Linked DNA regions of Homo sapiens: region 2 is linked to region 1. A link means that fine-mapping ties the variant in region 1 to the expression of a gene that starts in the linked region. Tissue or cell type: prefrontal cortex. Region 1 holds a variant in brackets; the other region holds the start of a gene. All regions are shown on one strand. Distances are from middle to middle.

Region 1 (8,101 bases):
CTATTTACCTAATATATCTAACAGGTTTTCTTGATATATTTCGGTATTCGATGTTGGACACATAAACATCTAACGTGTGTATCGGCTGTGTATTAGACATCACAACTTTATGGGGTATAATAACTCTTATTAATATAAATTGGTCTGTTTGTCCTTCTTAATGATTTGTGCTTTATTTTCCGCGGATACTAATATTGTCACTCCTTGGCACTTTTTGTCAACATTTGCCGCTGCAAATGCCTACATCAGTCCTTTATTTTTAAGCCGTACATCAAAATGTATTAAGTGTCCCTTGTAAATAACACACAGTTGAGCTCTAATGCGATCCAAGTCTTGCCCTCCTGCTGCCATGGAGCAGAACCTGTGCCAAGCCCCTGCTCCCCCAGCATCCTCTTACTTACTCCTCTGGCTTTTACCCTCAATTCATAAACATGCTTGAGTCTTTTGCATCTGAAGGAAAAACAAAACCAAAGGCCTTTTGACTCCATGTCCTTTGCTCACTGTTAGCAAATCCTCTCACCTCTGTGCTCGCCCAGGCTGAATGTGGTTCTTCCTTCTTCCTTTCTCATTCGCAGGTGCCTCAGAACTGCCCTGTGTCCCCTCTCTGCTCTGGCATTGCTTGGATGCCCCCACCTGTCCTGCCCTTCCTGGGGCCCCCTCACTTTGCTCAGATTCATGGACACGATTGGATGCGATCCTCTAGGGAAGCCATCCCCACCCACATCCCTGGCTCCACGGAAGTTCTGAGCTGCCACCTCCCCGTGGGTCCCATGCGCTATTCACAGCTCTGCAACCACACTGGCCCCCAGTGGACCAGAAACTTCTGAATGCAGGACTGAGCTTTTTGTCTCTGTGCCTGCAGCACTGGGTGAGCATGCAGCAGGATGGGCATGTGTGTGAGCAACACTGGGCAGACATGCTGCAACGTGGCCCGTGTCTGGGAAGCACCAGGCAGGCATGCAGCAGGGTGGGCACATGTCTGAGTTGTACCAGGTGGGCATGCAGCAGGGTCGGCATGGGCCTGGTACCAGGTGGGCATGCAGCAAGGTGGGCACATGTCTGAGTGGTACCAGGGCGGGAATGCAGCAGGGTGGGCACATGTCTGGGCAGCACCAGTCAGGCATACAGTAAAGTGGGCATGTGTGTGGGCAGCACTAGATAGGCATGCTACAAGGTGGGTGTATTAGCCTGTTCTCACATTGCTATAAAGAACTCCCCAAGACTGGGTAATTTATAAAGAAAAGTTTAATCGACTCACAGTTCCGCAGGCTGTCCAGGAAGCATGGCTGGGTAGGTCTCAGGAAACTTACAATCCTGATGAAAGGCAAAGGGGAAGGAGGCATGTCTTCCATGGCCAGAGAAGGAGGAAGGGTGGGGGGAGATGCTGCACACTTTTAAACAACCAGCTCTCCTGAGAACTCACTCACTAGCATGAGAACGGCAAGGGGAAATCCGCCCCCACGATCCAATCACCTCCCACCAGGCCCTCCTGCAACACTGGGGATTACAATTTGACATGAGTTTTGGGCAGGGACACAATCCAAACCATATTATTCTACCCCAGCCCCTCCCAAATCTCACGTCTTTCTCACATGGGAAAACACAATCATCCCTTCTTAACAGTCCCACAGGTCTTAACTCATTTCAGTATTAACTCAAAACTCCACAATCCAAAGTCTCATCTGAGACAAGGCAAGGCCCTACCACCTATGAGCCTGGAAAATCAAAAGCAAGTTAGTTACTTCCAAGATACAATGAGGGTAATGGCATTGGGTAAATACACCCACTCCAAAAGGGAGAAATCCACCAAAACAAAGGGGTCACAGGCCCCATGCAAGTCCAAAACGCAGCAGGGCAGTCATTAAATCTTAAAGCTCCAAAATAATGTCTTTTGACTCCATGTCCCACATCCAGACCACACTGACGCAAGGTGTGGGCTCTCAAGGCCTTGGGCATCTCCAGCCCTGTGGCTCTGCAGGGTACAGCCCCCTTGGCTGCTTTTATGGGGTGCCGCTGAGTGCCTGTGGCTTTTCCAGGTGCGTGGTGCAAGCTGTCAGTACATCTACCATTCTGGGGTCTGGAGGACAGTGGCCCTCTTCTCACAGCTCCACTAGGCAGTGCCCCAGTGGGGACTCTGTGTGGGGCCTCCAACCCCACATTTCCCCTCCACACTGCCCTAGTAGAGGTTCTCCGTGAGAGTTCCAGGCCTGTTGCAGACTTCTGCTTGGACATCCAGGCATTTCCATACATCTTCTGAAATCTAACCAGAGGCTCCCAAACCTCAGCCCTTGCCCTCTGTGTACCCACAGGCTCAACACCACATGGAAGCCACCAACACTGAATGGCTTGCACCTTCTGGAGCCATCATCTAAGACATATCTGGGGCCCTTTGGCCATGGCTAAAGCTGGAGTGGCTAGGATACAGGGAGCAGTGTCCCAAAGTTGTACAGGGCAGTGGAGCCCTAGGCCCAGCCCATGAAACCATTCTTCCCTCCTAGGCCTCCACGCCTGAGATCGGAGGGCTGCCGCCAAAGTCTCTGAAGTGCCTTTTAGACATTTTCCCCATTGTCTTGGCTGTTGACATTCAGCAACTCATGCAAATTTCTGCAGCTGGCTTGAAGTCCTCCCCAGAAAATGGGTTTTTCTGTTTTTAAATCTTTTGAGGAGTCTCATGCTGTCACCCAGGCTGGAATGCAGTGGTGTGATCTTGGCTCACTGCAATCTCTGCCTCCTGGGTTTAAGTGATTCTCGTGCCTTAGCCACCCAAGTAGCTGGGATTACAGATGTGCACCATCACGCCCAGCTAATTTTTGTATTTTTAGTACAGATGGGGTTCCACCATGTTGGCCAGGCTGGTTTCAAACTCCTGGCCTCAAGTGATCCACCCGCTGCAGCCTCCCAAAGTGCTGGAATTACAGGCATAAGCTACTGCACCTGATGGGGATTTTCTTTTCTACTACATGGTCAGGCTACAATTTTTCTAAACTTTTATGCTCTGCTTCCCTTTTATTAATAAATATAAGTTCCAGTTTTAGATAATCTCCTCGCTCATGCATATGACCATATGTTGTTAGAAGTAGCCAGGCCACATCTTGAATGCTTTGCTGCTTAGAAATTTCTTCTGCCAGATACCCTAAATCATCACTGTCATGTTCAAAGTTCCACTGATCCCTAGAGCAGGGTTACAACACCACCAGTCTCTTTGCTAAAGCATAGCAAGAATGACCTTTACTCCAGTTCCCAATAAGTTCCTAATTTCCATATGAGACCTCCTCAGCCTGGACTTAACCGTCCATATCACTATCAGCATTTTGGTCACAACCATTCAACAAATCTCTGGGACGTTCCAAACTTTCCCTCCTCTTCCTGTCTTCTTCTGAGATCTCCAAACTCTTCCACCCTCTTCTCGTTACCCAGTTCCAAAGCTGCTTCCACATTTTCAGGTCTCTTCTCTTCTCTTCCTGGTACTTCCTGGTGCCAATTTTGGCACTGCTATAAAGAACTACCTGAGTGCTCACTTTGGCAGCACATATACTAAAATTGGAATGGTACAGAGAACATTAGCATGGTCCCTGTACAAGGATGACAAAGAAAAATTAAAAGGAAAAAAATTTTTAAAAAAGAACTACCTGAGTCTGGGTAATTTATAAAGAACAGGAGTTTAATTGATTCCCAGTTCTGCAGGCTGTACAGGAAGCATGGCTGGGGTGCCTCAGGAAACTTACAATCATGGCAGAAGGCAAAGAGGAAGGAGGCACATTTTACATGGCCAGAGAAGGAGGAAGACTGGGAAGCAGGAGGTGCAACATACTTTAAAATAACCAGATCTCATGAGAACTCACTATCGTGAGAACAGCAAAAGGGAAATCTGCTCCCATGATTCAGTCACCTCCCACCAAGCCCCTCCTCCAACACTGGGGATTATAATTTGACATGAGATTTGGGTGGGGACACAAATCCAAACCATATCAGTGGGGACTTGCGTGGGCAGCACAGGGTGAGTATGGGGCCAGGTGCACATGTGTGGGCAGCACCGGGTGGGTATGGTGCCAGCTGTGCACATGTGTGGGCTTTGCAGCCAGGCATCCTGGGTTTGAATCTCGGCTTCACTGCTCAGAATTCCAGGACTGGGAGCAAGTCAGGTAAACTGCCCACCTCCTTTCCTTCACCTATGAATAGGGATATATGTAATTTGCATCATCTTTATCGAGTTACTGTGAGTGCCTCATGGGTGGAGTGCCTGATGAGGGCCCCCTGTCGTCACTGGTGATGGTTTTGTTATTATTGTTATTGATTTGCTGGTGGCTGGAGGCATTAGGCACACTGCAGACAAAGGCTGAAGAGGCTGTTTTTTAGTCTGTCTCTGTCGATCTGTTTAGTTCCATCCTTTAGTGAATCTCCACAGCTCTCCCATGTGGTGTGCTTCTTGAGCCCCTGTGAGTCTGCAGTCACCTGCCTTTTGCCCAAGCCTGTGCACGACATCTGGGCTGATGGTGGCATTGTTGAGCCACAACAAAGCCCCATCCACAGCAGCCACAGGGCTGTGTCCCGTTAGAACTAATTATCTCCAGACCACATTCTTCAGATAAGGAGCATTGTTCTTTGACAGCCGAGGATGGAAGTGGTACCTAACATGCAACTACACTGGCTGTGAGGCTGGAGGCCTCAGACCGACTCCTCTGTTGCCTGGGAGATGGACAGGGAGGCCATGGCAGCACGGAGGCAATAGAGGGCTGGGCCTAGACACTGACTGAGAAGTTGATTGGCAGGAGCTGGAGGGCAAAGGTCACAGGAGGAGTGGACTGGGTCTTTGTGCCACCTGTGTTCTCAGCACCACCTCCAGCATCCCCACCCCCACCCCCATCACTCCTGCCATACTAAGAGCTCTCCACCTGCCTACCCTG[A/G]GTGTCCTGAGACCCAGGGGCATTGCTTCCACATCCTGCCACAGGCCATGTGCTTGGATTGGGTGCTTTTAGAGAGAAAGCTGGCGTCAGGCTGAGCTAACTTCCTTTGGATCTTAGATGCCGTGTTAGATCAAGTTTTTCAGAGCAGATGCTGAGCCAAAGATTCAGGTGCAGGTGATTTTCCGAGAAGCTGCTCTCCGGGGAGAAGGGGTGGCGGGAGCAGCGCAGGGAAGATGTCTTACTCTGTTTTGTGTTGCTATAAGGGAATATCTGAGCTTGGATAATTTATAAAGACAACAGGTTTATTTGGCTCACAGTTCTGCAAGCTGTACAGAATTATGTCACTGGCATCTGCTCGGCTTCCGGTGAGGGCCTCAGGTTGCTTCCACTCATGATGGAAGGTGGAAGGGGAACAAGAATGTCACATGATGGGAGAGGAAGCAAGAGAGATAGGAGGAGGTGCCATGCTCTTTTTAACACCAGCTCTTGTGTGAATTAAGAGTGAGAACTCACTCACTACCATGGGGACAGCCCCAAGCCATTCATGAGGGATCCACCCCCATAACCCAAACATCTCCCACCAGGCCCCACCTCCAACATTGGGGATCACATTTCAGGTGAGATTTTATTCAAACCATATCAGAAGGCGCCCCGGCATCAGGATTTGCCATGACAGTGAAAATTGAAGCTACCACGCCCTAAGACCCAGGTTCCAGAACTCACAAGACACCCCTTCTGCCTCATTGGATTGGCCAAAGAAGCCATGAGGCCAGCCTAGAGTCAGGTGGAGGGAAGTGGACTTCCTGGGTGAGTGGCTGCACCCACAGGGAGAGGAGGAGCTGTCCGGATTTATTTGTCACAGGCCACCAAAGCTCTGCCGCCTGTCTCCACTGACACACTCCACACTACTTAACGCTCCACGGCCTAAGTCTCTCAGTTGTTTTGACCTAGTCCTTCACAGCCTGTTCATTTGCCTTTTGGTGGACTAAAATTCATTCTCTATTTATTTATTTAAAAGGAACTTCAGTAGACAAGAGTTCCTCCATTTGTGAATATTTTCAGAAGCGCTTTTTTATGATTCAGCATGAGTAACAGCTTTATTCTGTTCTAAAATTTTACTCTGATATAAAATTCTTGGTTCATACTTTCTTTTCCTGGAGATTTTGCAGGCATTATTTCCCTCTTCTCTAAGATGAGGTGTTGCCGTAGAAAATCTGAAGCCAGCTTGGACTTCTCTTCTCATGTCAGGGCCTTCATATTTTTGCCTCGGTGCCAAACAAATTCTTCGTGTTTGACCCCCAAGTCTCAGTGCTGATCAAGTGCACCAATTTTTGTAGAAACATGATATACCCTCTTAATCCATAGATTTCATCTTTTTTAGTTTCACCACATTTTCTTGAATTATTTGAATTATTTTTCTTTTATATTTGATTTTCTCCTGCAAGGCCACCAATTATGTGTGTGTTGTGTCGGCATTTTGTGTTTTCCTTTTCTATCCTTTCCTCTAAACCATCGCAACTCTTTATTCTTTTCTGGTGAATTTTTTTCACTTTTTCCAAGCTTGACTCCACATCCCTGGCAATGGTTTTAGGAGAATCTATTCTCTTTTTCTTTGATTCTAGTGTGGCCTTCATTTTGTGATTTTTAAAATTCTGCTTCTTTTCTTGAGCTCTGCCTGCCTATTTTTGAAATCTCCTATCATCTTTTTGTTTCTTATTGAAGTCTGTCTTGGCTTTTGTTTTACGTGAAAGACATTTTCATTTAGATCGTTAAGTTTCTGATTGTTAAGAAGGTTTCCATCATCTTCCCCAATGCGAGGATTTTTTGTGTCTTTGCTTTTTACCTTTTCTATTATTTTCTTCCTTTTTCTTGTAATGTTTTCAGTGGACACTATTTTCATTCCTTTCTGTCATTGTTTATTTGTGCATATAAAGTGAGTTCTTCCCGAAACAACTGTCTGCAGTGTGTGGGAGGGCAGTCCTGGGGCGGGGAGCTTCCCTGGCTGGCTGTGCAGCCCCGCAGCCTGGCCTCCGCCTCGCCCTGGAGCAGCGAGGTCACTCGGCAAGGCCTTCACACTCTCAGGGGCTCAGAGTTGTGGGTGCCTCCTGTTTTCCATGAGGATAGAATTCCCATCTCTGTTTCTCATCCTCGGTGACAAAAAGAGAGACAACTTTACTAGAGGTTCACTTTAACAAGTAGCGGACACTTTTTGCTTGGTCGTTTTGTGTGCATGTGTGTTTGTTTCATTTTGTTTGCTACAACAAAAGCAACAACTAAAGAAATAAATACCCTTAATTTCATCACTCTGGAGATCTTTCACAACATTGACGACTCAGACGTCGTCGGTCTTCTCTCCCGGCCTCAGCTGCGGTCAGACTCCAGGTGAGCTGCACCTGGCCGTCTCATTTACGCGGCCTCTCTGGCATTGGATAAGAACTCTATGGCCAACTTACCCAAGAGGTGGTCTGCAATATCTTTGAATACATTAAGACCTGGTGGTCTTATAGAGAAATCTGTAATGATTCATTCACTCGTTGCTACAGACCAAATGTTTCCTATGTGGAAGCTCTGACCCCAATGCGATGGTATTTGCAAGTGAGGCCCCTGGGAGCTGATGAGGCTTAGAGGAGGTCATGAGGGCCCGTGACAGAACATCCTCTCTCTGCTATGAGAGGACACAGCAAGAAGGAGGCTGTCCGGGGACCAGGAAGCAGCCCTCTCTGGAGCCAACCCTGCTGCCACCTTCACCTTGGACTCCCAGCCTCCAGAAATGTGAGGAATGAATGTCCACTGTTAAGCTGCCCCATCTGTGTTGTTTTGTTGTAGTGGCCTGGATGGACTAAGACATTCATTCAATCATTAATTTATTCAAAGATATTGCAGACCACCTTGTGGGTAAGTTGGCCATAGAGTTCCTATCCGATGCCAGAGAAGCAGTGTAATTGAGACGGCCAGGTGCAGCTCACCTGGAGCCTGACCGCAGCTGAGGCAGGGAGAGAAGACAGGCAATGAGCGGGCCAGCGAAGGAAGCTTTCTGTTTCTTTAATGCAGATGAACCAGCGAGGAGAGAAAGGGCCAGGGCAAGGCACTGCTGAGCCGGGCGGGCTGCTGCTCCGTGCTCACTGGGGAATGTTGTTCAGGTGAGTCAGGGCCTCACGCCATGGAGGACATTTACGCAATCCCACCTGACAATGGCT
Region 2 (8,101 bases), 350 kb before region 1:
ATAGCTAGCCCTGCAGATGATTCCCAACCTGGATGGGGTGCGTTACCCCACTCCTGCCCATGCTGAAGCCATGGGAGCCGATCACTGGCACGCGGCGCTTCTCCCTGGTGCTGCCCCCCCTGCCCAGGGCTCTCCGTCTCCAATGAGTCTGGGCCTCTGCCCCGACTGAAGAAAGGCTCGAGAGAAAGGACTCGAGATGTAACATGTGGTTTCTATTTTAGATGGACAATTTCAGACATTGTTTGGACTAAGCTTGCTTTGGGTCTATGGAGCCAGTTCCACATGTGTCTGGATGAAGTCATCTTTCTCACGGGGCAGGGCAAACAGGCTCCACACTGTCCACTCCCATCCACCAGGTGAGTAGCCCCTAGGGTGAGAACGCCCCTCCCCACCTTAGGAGTAAGGACGGGATCCAGCCAGCTGCAGCAAACCCACCCACAAATGGGAGACTACACAAACACTCCACTTCCTGCCTGAGAGGGTCTACAACCAAACGGCACGCATGACTGTGGTGAAGCTGCGGTGTGCACCTGTGTCACCAACCAGGGGCTCCTCGGACGGGGGGAGGGGGGGCTCAAAGACCAGAGGAGGAGGAGGTGGGGGTGCTCAAAGATCAGAACAGGAAGTGGCTGAAGACAGGGACTAGAGCCGGATACAGAGCAGGTCATCTGTGAGGTTCAGCTTTCCCTTAGAGAGGATTACTAACCACTAAAGTTGGGCCAAGCATCTATTGCCACCATGTCCCGTTAGGCAATGCCAGATGGCACTGCATCAGGGGCCACACGTGTGTGTTCTGGGCCCACATGGGTGACCCACCCGTCCCCCATCACGGCTTGCTGGGGCTATGGGATCTCAGCAGCTCCAGGGACTGAAGTACTTACTCCACGAGGCCACACAGGGTACAGGCCACGGAGCCGCAGCCCCAGCAGGTGCGCACACACTGCCCGCACAGGGCTCGCTCACACTGACCGCAGACCGCCTTCCCATCCACGGCTCGCACGCATGAGGAACAGGCAATGGACGCTACCCCAGATGGGTCTGTGAGGAAGAAACGCCAAGCCGTCAGGCTGCAAGGAGACTGGAGTTTCCGGGACTGCCGGGCTACCTGCCTCCATGCATACCTGAGGGCAGAGGGCTCTGACCTGCCTACCCCATCCCCACCTACACTGGATCCTTCTGACAACCCGTGAGCCTGGTACAGTGCACAGGACCCCCGTTTTACTACAGAGATCCAAGGTGAGATATGCCTGTAGTTGACTCCAAGTTCAGTGCTCTTTCCCTTACCAGGTCCCTCTGCTACCTGGAGGCTAGTGCTGGAAGGACCATTCTTCCCCTGTTGCTTGTCAGAACTCCATGTGTCCCATCTGGGTCTCAGTGTGGCCCACTGCCTTACTGGTTAACAAAGAGGTGCCTGGGCTCCTCCTAGACACACCAACCAGACTTGAGGTAGAGTCGGGGATTGCATTTCTAACCAGCAACACAGGTGATGCTCTGAGACCCCACACTGCATAGGGATGGGACTGGCATGTTTCCAGCCTTGTGGGACTATCTGAGGGGGCTGCAGGCGGAAAGCAGACGGGATACCCGGGGAGTCTCTGCTGCTTTTTTGGCCCAGTACTTAGAAGCTGTTTAACAACTTCCAGTCTTGAATGTGAGACCTCCTGATAACAGGAGCCTTCTGAGCCAGAAGGCCAAGCTCTGGGTCAGAGTCCTGCTTACCCAGGGAGGAAAAGCCTGACCTTGCAAATCAAGAAAAATGCTCGTGCCACCACCTGCCCTCAGTGCCACAGCCACAAAGGGCTGCTGGTGCCACTCACCAGCTTCGGAGGCCTGCCCAAGGCTCCTGATCAGGCGGCCGTCTGGTCCAATCAGCATCTGCCCACGTGCAGCCCTCGGGGCCCCTGTAGGGCCAGGCTTTGGGGACTCTGGCAGGTGAACGACGGCACAGCCTTCATCCCACACGTGGTCCAGGTAGGCCTGGGCCCCGAGGAACAGGAGTCGCTTGGTCTTCTCTGGGGGAAGATAAATCATTCTCACGTCCTTCACTGTGTACCAACGAAGCCCCTGCATGGCCATTGAGTCTTTCTAGCCTCACATGAACCCCATCGTCCTCCTGTGTGCCCTCTGTCTCCCAGTAACCCCAGCCTGTGTTGTGCCCTGGCGAGCTGGGTCCTGCTCTGCCTCTATGCTGAGAATGCTTGTGCGTCCTTTCCTTACCTGGCTTAGCTGTCATCTCCTCCAGGAAGGCTCTGGCCCTGCAGCCCCACCTGTGTCTGATGCAAGGGTTCCCTCTCCTATCACTCGGCTCATTTTCTGCAATTCACGGCTGGCCTCGCCTCACTAAGCTTGTCCCCTTTCTCCCTTTTCTGCTTCCCCAGCACTCCCCACCTGGAAACCAGGCTCTGTGGAATGCACAGAGGGAGCTCTGCACTGTGGAGCACTAATTCACAAAACTCGTCCCCTGCCAAGGAAGCAGCCAGAGGCTTGGAGCTGGGCCTACAGCCTCTGGCCAGAGCACACCCCCTTCACCTGCTACAGAGTTGCTGGCAAGACAAGCATCCCAGAACCTTCCAGACCTCTTGTTCTAGAACACCCACCCATCCCTGGGAGCAGTGGTTTTCCATCAGGCCACAGTTCAGTCACCTGGGGAGCTTTGAAAAATCAGATGCCCAGGGCCAGACCCAGAAATGCTTTGTTTTTTGTTTTGCACCTCACCATAACACAGTAAAGGCAGAGATCCCAGAAACTCTATGTGGCTCTACATGAAGTGGGCAGCAATAATAGTGACAGGGTAACTCACATGGAGTAGCTGATGCCAGCCCACAACACCCTGCACCTTCCTCCTGGCCCCCCACACCTTCCCCCATCTATAAGGGGAAAGGAATGGGACAGACACGTGGTGAGGCTAATCCTTGTCCTCAAGGCCTTGTGGACAATTCGAGGTTAAGAGATCAGGGTAACAGCTGTGGCCTGGAATTTGGAAACTGTCACACAGTTCAAAGTAGGTGTCCTGCATTTACCATGGAAGGCCCACTGCACCCAGCAGACCTCCCTGACCTGACCCGGTGAGTGGCACACACCTGCCAACGCCCAGGTCAGGACACTCGGGAAGAATAAAGGGCCATACTGAGCCAGGCCCCATTTCCATCTTCCTCTTCTTGCCTGCACAGTGTTTGAATTTTTCAACTGTCCTGAGAGGGCACACGATTGCGGTCCTGCCACAGTTCCCACGGCATCATTCCCCTTACCTCCCCATGGCCCAGAATAGCACTCGCTTTCACAGCCCTAGCACACTGGAGACACCGCACAGAGGAACCTCGGGAGGCAGAGTCTTTCCCTCATTCCCAAGGCACAAGCGGCACCAGGTAAATCACACACCCCGGGTCATCCTCTAACTGCTCTACAGGTGCAGACTTTGTGTCCCAATCACTAGGCAAGGTAAGCTCCACTTTTTACCTGCCCCAGGGTATTAATCACCCCAGTCAGAGTGATGATCAATAAGATCAACACGCCTGAAATCCACAGGAGAAAGCCAGAGAAGGCCTGGGAGCTCACTGCCCTCACATCCCACCCAGAACTGGACACTGCAGCCACACGGAGTCCTATTTCGCTCTCCTGCTGCCTGGCTTCTGCCTCGCCCTCTTCCTTCCCTTCCTCTGCCTGGCTAACTCCTACTCGCCCCCACAGGATTCCGCTCAGACTGTTCTTCCAAGAAGCCTTCCGTGCCATCCCTGCAGGTGCGCCTGCACAAACCTGTGCCTGCCCCGACCACCTGTGGCGACTCCTCCTGCTGGTCTCCCCAACTAGGCTGGGGAGCTCCCGGGAGACGGGGCACATCTGTCTTGCCTGCCTTTGGTCTCCCGAGAAAGCCGCCGTGCCTGGCAGGGCCGCGCGCTCCATGAATACCTCTTGGGACAGGAGGGGCACTCTTCGGGTTGACTCCATGCAGGACGCCCCGCTCCCCAACCTCTCCCAGGACATCCTGCACGGGACAGTCCTGAGAAAGCACCAGGCGGGTGCCGCTCACTGCAGGGCGGCGACTAACCGGGATCGTGGAAGAGGGCGCGGGGGCTAGGGGCAGGGACCCTTTTCTTTCAGGCTGTTGGACAGGGTGGGCGAACGCTGGGGTCCTCACATCCCCCTCACTGACCCCAGCCCTGGGCGTGGCCAGCTTGTGTCCCCGCGGCCTCCCAGCTTCCGGGAACGCGGGGCCAGAAAGCAGGGCCCTCCAGCCCCCCGCTCAGGCCTCAGAGGGGACGCTGAGGCCCGGCCCGTTCCAGGCCCCGACGCAGCGGACCCTCGGCAGCCCGCCCGACACTCACCGAAGACCTCCTGCGAGTAGCGCTCGGCGCACACGCCGCGGCTCAACTCCCTCTGGCTCACGCGGACCTTGAGCTGTAGCGGGGCCACGTCCGCGAAGGGGCAGCTCCGCTTGGGCATGGCCGCGGGGCCGGGAGCTACGCAGCTCCCCGGCCGCCAGCCCCTTACCAACGACGCCGTGACGTCACAGCTGCGCGCCCATCCGCGGGCGAGAGCGGGTTTGAGGAGAGGGAGCGACGCGGCGCGTCATAGGCTGCGGGCGAAGTGGGAGGCGGGACTCCTGCGCGGAGCGGCGCGGGATAGGCCGAGGGAGAGATCGGGGGTGGGACTCGTGCGTCGGTGTACTGGACTCGACGCCGCGGGAAAGGCCAGGGGCCAGGTTGAGGATCAGGGTGGGCGGGTCCGTGGGAGAGATTTGTGCGCGCGCCGCTCAGGATAGGCGGGAGGAGAGACTAGGGGCGGGGTTCCTATGCGGCGCGAAGCGACGAAGGGTGGGAGCCAGGTCGCGGCATTCGGCTGCGCGGGAAGAGCCAGGGGGCGGGGGCGAGGCCGAGGGTCAGGACGGTGCAACGAGGGCGGAGCTTGTGCATCGGGGGCGGGCCTCGTTTGAGGATCGGCGTGGGATAGGCCAGGGCGACGTCGGGGCGGGTCTAGTTTGAGGAGCGGCGCGGGATAGGCCAGGGCAAAGTCTGGGGCGGCTGGGTCGGTGGCGGGATTCCTGTCAGCTTTTGTTTGGTTCCTAAACGGTAGACACTGGTTATAGTTCCTCATTTACTTCTCCGAAGTTAAGAGGCAGCCCGCTTCTTCCTAGCTCTTTTTTCCCCTTTAGAGACAGGGTCTCGCTCTGTCACCCAGACTGAGTGCAGTGGCAGTCTCGGCTCACTGTAGCTTGCGCCTCCCGGGCTCAGGCGATCCTCCCTTCTCGGCCTCCCCGGTAGCTGGGACCGCAGGCGCGCGCCTCCGCGCCCCGCTTTTTGGTTTTGGGTAGGAACGGGGGTTTTTCTGTGTTGCCTCAGCTGGCTTAGCTCCTCACTGTGGCGGTCTCCGCCTTCCAGAAGTAAAGGCGTGTGGGGGCTGCGCTCTGAGGGCCGCGTGCGGCTGCCGAGCGCCCCCGGGCGGGGGTATGCGCCGCTGTGTGGAAAATGTTCTTGCACAGCGGGTTCGTCTGACTTGGTGTCCCCATGCCGCGAGGTGCACCCGCGTCGTCCCTTCTCCGGGGTTCTGCTCACCAGAGGCGGCTCTCCCCTGCCCCGGCGGGTACAGAACCGACCCGTCCTGTGGCGTGGGCTTCGCCCTGTGAGAGATGACAGCGTGCTGGCAGCCCTCGCTCGCTCTCGGCGCCCACTCTGGCCGCGCTCGAGGGGCCCTTCAGCCCGCCGCTGCACTGTGGGAGCCCCTCTCTGGGCTGGCCGCGGCCGGAGCCGGCTCCCTCAGCTTGCAGGGAGGTGTGGAGGGAGAGGTGCGGGCGGGAACCCGGGCTGCACGTGGCGCTTGCGGGTCAGCGTGAGTTCCGGGTGGGCGTGGGCTCGGCGGGCCCCGCAATCGGAGCCACCGGCCCCAGGCAGTGAGGAGCTTAGCACCCGGGCCAGCAGCTGCGGAGGATGCGCCGGGTCCCCCACCAGTGCCGGCCCGCCGGCGCTGCGCTCGAATTCTCACCGGGCCTCAGCTGCCTCCCCGCGAGGCAGGGCTCAGGACCTGCAGCCCGCCATGCCTGAGTCTCCCCCCTGCCGTGGGCTCTTGCGCGGCCCCCTGCTCCGCGGCACCCGGTCCCATCGACCGCCCAAGGGCTGAGGAGTGCGGGCGCACGGCGCGGGACTGGCGGGCAGCTCCACCTGCAGCCCCGGTGTGGGATCCACTAGGTGAAGCCAGCTGGGCTCCTGAGTCTAGCGGCGACTTGGAGAACCTTTATGTCAAGCTAAGGGATTGTAAATACACCAATCAGCACTGTGTTTAGCTCAAGGTTTGTAAACTCACCAATCGGTACCCTGTGTCTAGCTCAAGGTTTGTAGATGCACCCATGGGCACTCTGTATCCAGCTAATCTGGTGGGGATTTGGAGAACCTTTATGTCTAGCTGTGGGATTGTGGACGCACCAGTCAGCACTCTGTGTTTAGCTCAAGGTTTGTAAATGTACCAATCAGCACTCTGTATCTAGCTAATCTGGTGGGGACTTGGAGAACCTTTATGTCTAGCTAAGGGACTGTAAATACACCAATCAGCACTCTGTGTCTAGCTCAAGGTTTGTAAAGACACCAATCAGCACCCTGTATCTAGCTCAAGGTTTGTAAATGCACCAATCAGTGCTCTGTGGGGACTTGGAGAACTTCTGTGTCTAGCTCAGGGATTGTAAACACACCAATCAGCGCCCTGTCAAGACGGACCAATCAGCTTTCTGTAAAACAGACCAGCCCTCTGTAAAATGGACCAATCAGCAGGATATGGGTGGGGCCAGATAAGGGAATAAAAGCAGGCCGCCCGAGCAGGCAGTGGGAACGTGTTGGTGTTCTGCCACATGTTTGGGGCTTTGCTCTTTCACTCTTTGGGTCCACACTTTTTATGAGCTGTAACACTCACTGGGAAGGTGTGTAGCTTCACTTCTGAGGCCAGCAAAGCCACAAACCCACCGGGAGGAATGAACAGCTCCAGACACACTGCCTTAAGAGCTGTAACACTCCTTGTGAAGGTCTGCAGCTCCACTCCTGAAGCCAGCAAGACCGTGAGTCTGCCAGAAGGAACAAACTCCAAACACGTCCAAACATCAGAAGGAACAAACTGCAGACATAACAATTTTAAGAACTGTAACAGTCAACTGTGAGGACCTAGTGCTTCATTCTTAAAGTCAGTGAGATCAAGAACCCACCAATTCTGGACACACCTGGACTATGTTCTCACGACTCCATCGGTGTTGCCTCCGGTGTGAAGAGGTGATGCCTGGAGTCCCGCAAACCCCTCCCACGTGACTCCCGTGTTGCAGCTGCCCACGCCCCCTCAGAGGCAGTGTATGCTTTCCTAGCCATGGGTGGCTGAAACCTTACCAGTCTCCAGCTTAGATGTCCTTTCTCCTCCTGCCGTGCAGGGTTCCCTGTGGTGGGGATGGGATCAAGCATTCTTGGCTCTTCCTTGCCACTTTGCTGGCATAATGGAGAATTTTTTCTGCCTTAGGGAAATGACTTGAAAGTTACTCAGTTGGAGTCACGTGTGACTAAACACAGATTTGGTTTATCCCAGAAATAGATGAAGTTCTCAGAGAGGAGGATTGTTTTCAATCTTATGGATCGTGGGGATTTCTAAAGATTTCCCTGTGTTCAGACTTGCAACTCTCCTAGGGTCTCATCACCATCGTGGACAGATACAGAACATCGGGCAGCTTATGGAGTGGGGCTGTCCCCCAGGCCACATGCCGGTTCCTCAGAGGTTGCTGGGTAGGATTCTGCTGCTTTAACAAACTTGCCTGGCTAACACCACTGGCTCACCCTTGAATGCCTTCCTGGGTGAAGCCATGAACCCTCCAGGGTTAAGCCCCAATTTTGGGGCTCACCTGCCCTGCATCAGATTGATGGTTAACTTGTAAAGAAACTGGCAGCTTTCCAGAGTGCTAGGAAAAAGGAAAATTATCATTAAACAAAATCATTGTCATAGTTTTCCTCTAATTCGTCTTGAGGTCTCTCCTGGAGAGTGGCTGTAAACTTTGGCCCTTCCCTGATGGGGCTCTGGGGGCGGTGGGCATGGGGTTACAGTGTGTGCTCTCGTGGGATGCCTCCTGACCCTGGCTGATGGCCTC

What was found. PIP is the estimated chance that this variant, and not a neighbour inherited with it, causes the effect.
Region 2: it holds the start of SIVA1, and the variant in region 1 is fine-mapped to the expression of SIVA1 in prefrontal cortex (GTEx, PIP above 0.99).

What each region holds. Positions count from the first base shown.
Region 1 is chr14:104,396,458-104,404,558 of GRCh38, reverse strand. It overlaps the pseudogene RNU6-684P. Among named protein-coding and RNA genes, the nearest start is that of LINC02691, 180 kb to the right of the region's middle. RefSeq lists enhancers at 353-919, 920-1,486. The variant A/G (reference allele first, on the strand shown) is at 4,905.
Region 2 is chr14:104,749,541-104,757,641 of GRCh38, reverse strand. SIVA1 (SIVA1 apoptosis inducing factor) reads right to left here and starts at 4,495. Exons shown (of 4, transcript NM_006427.4): 1 at 4,323-4,495; 2 at 1,818-2,012; 3 at 882-1,038. The coding sequence starts at 4,440. It overlaps LOC107987209 (a long non-coding RNA gene), which reads left to right. Exons shown (of 3, transcript XR_001750915.3): 2 at 222-1,236. RefSeq lists enhancers at 4,400-4,469, 4,480-4,529, 4,175-4,676, 5,380-5,469 and a silencer at 4,630-4,999.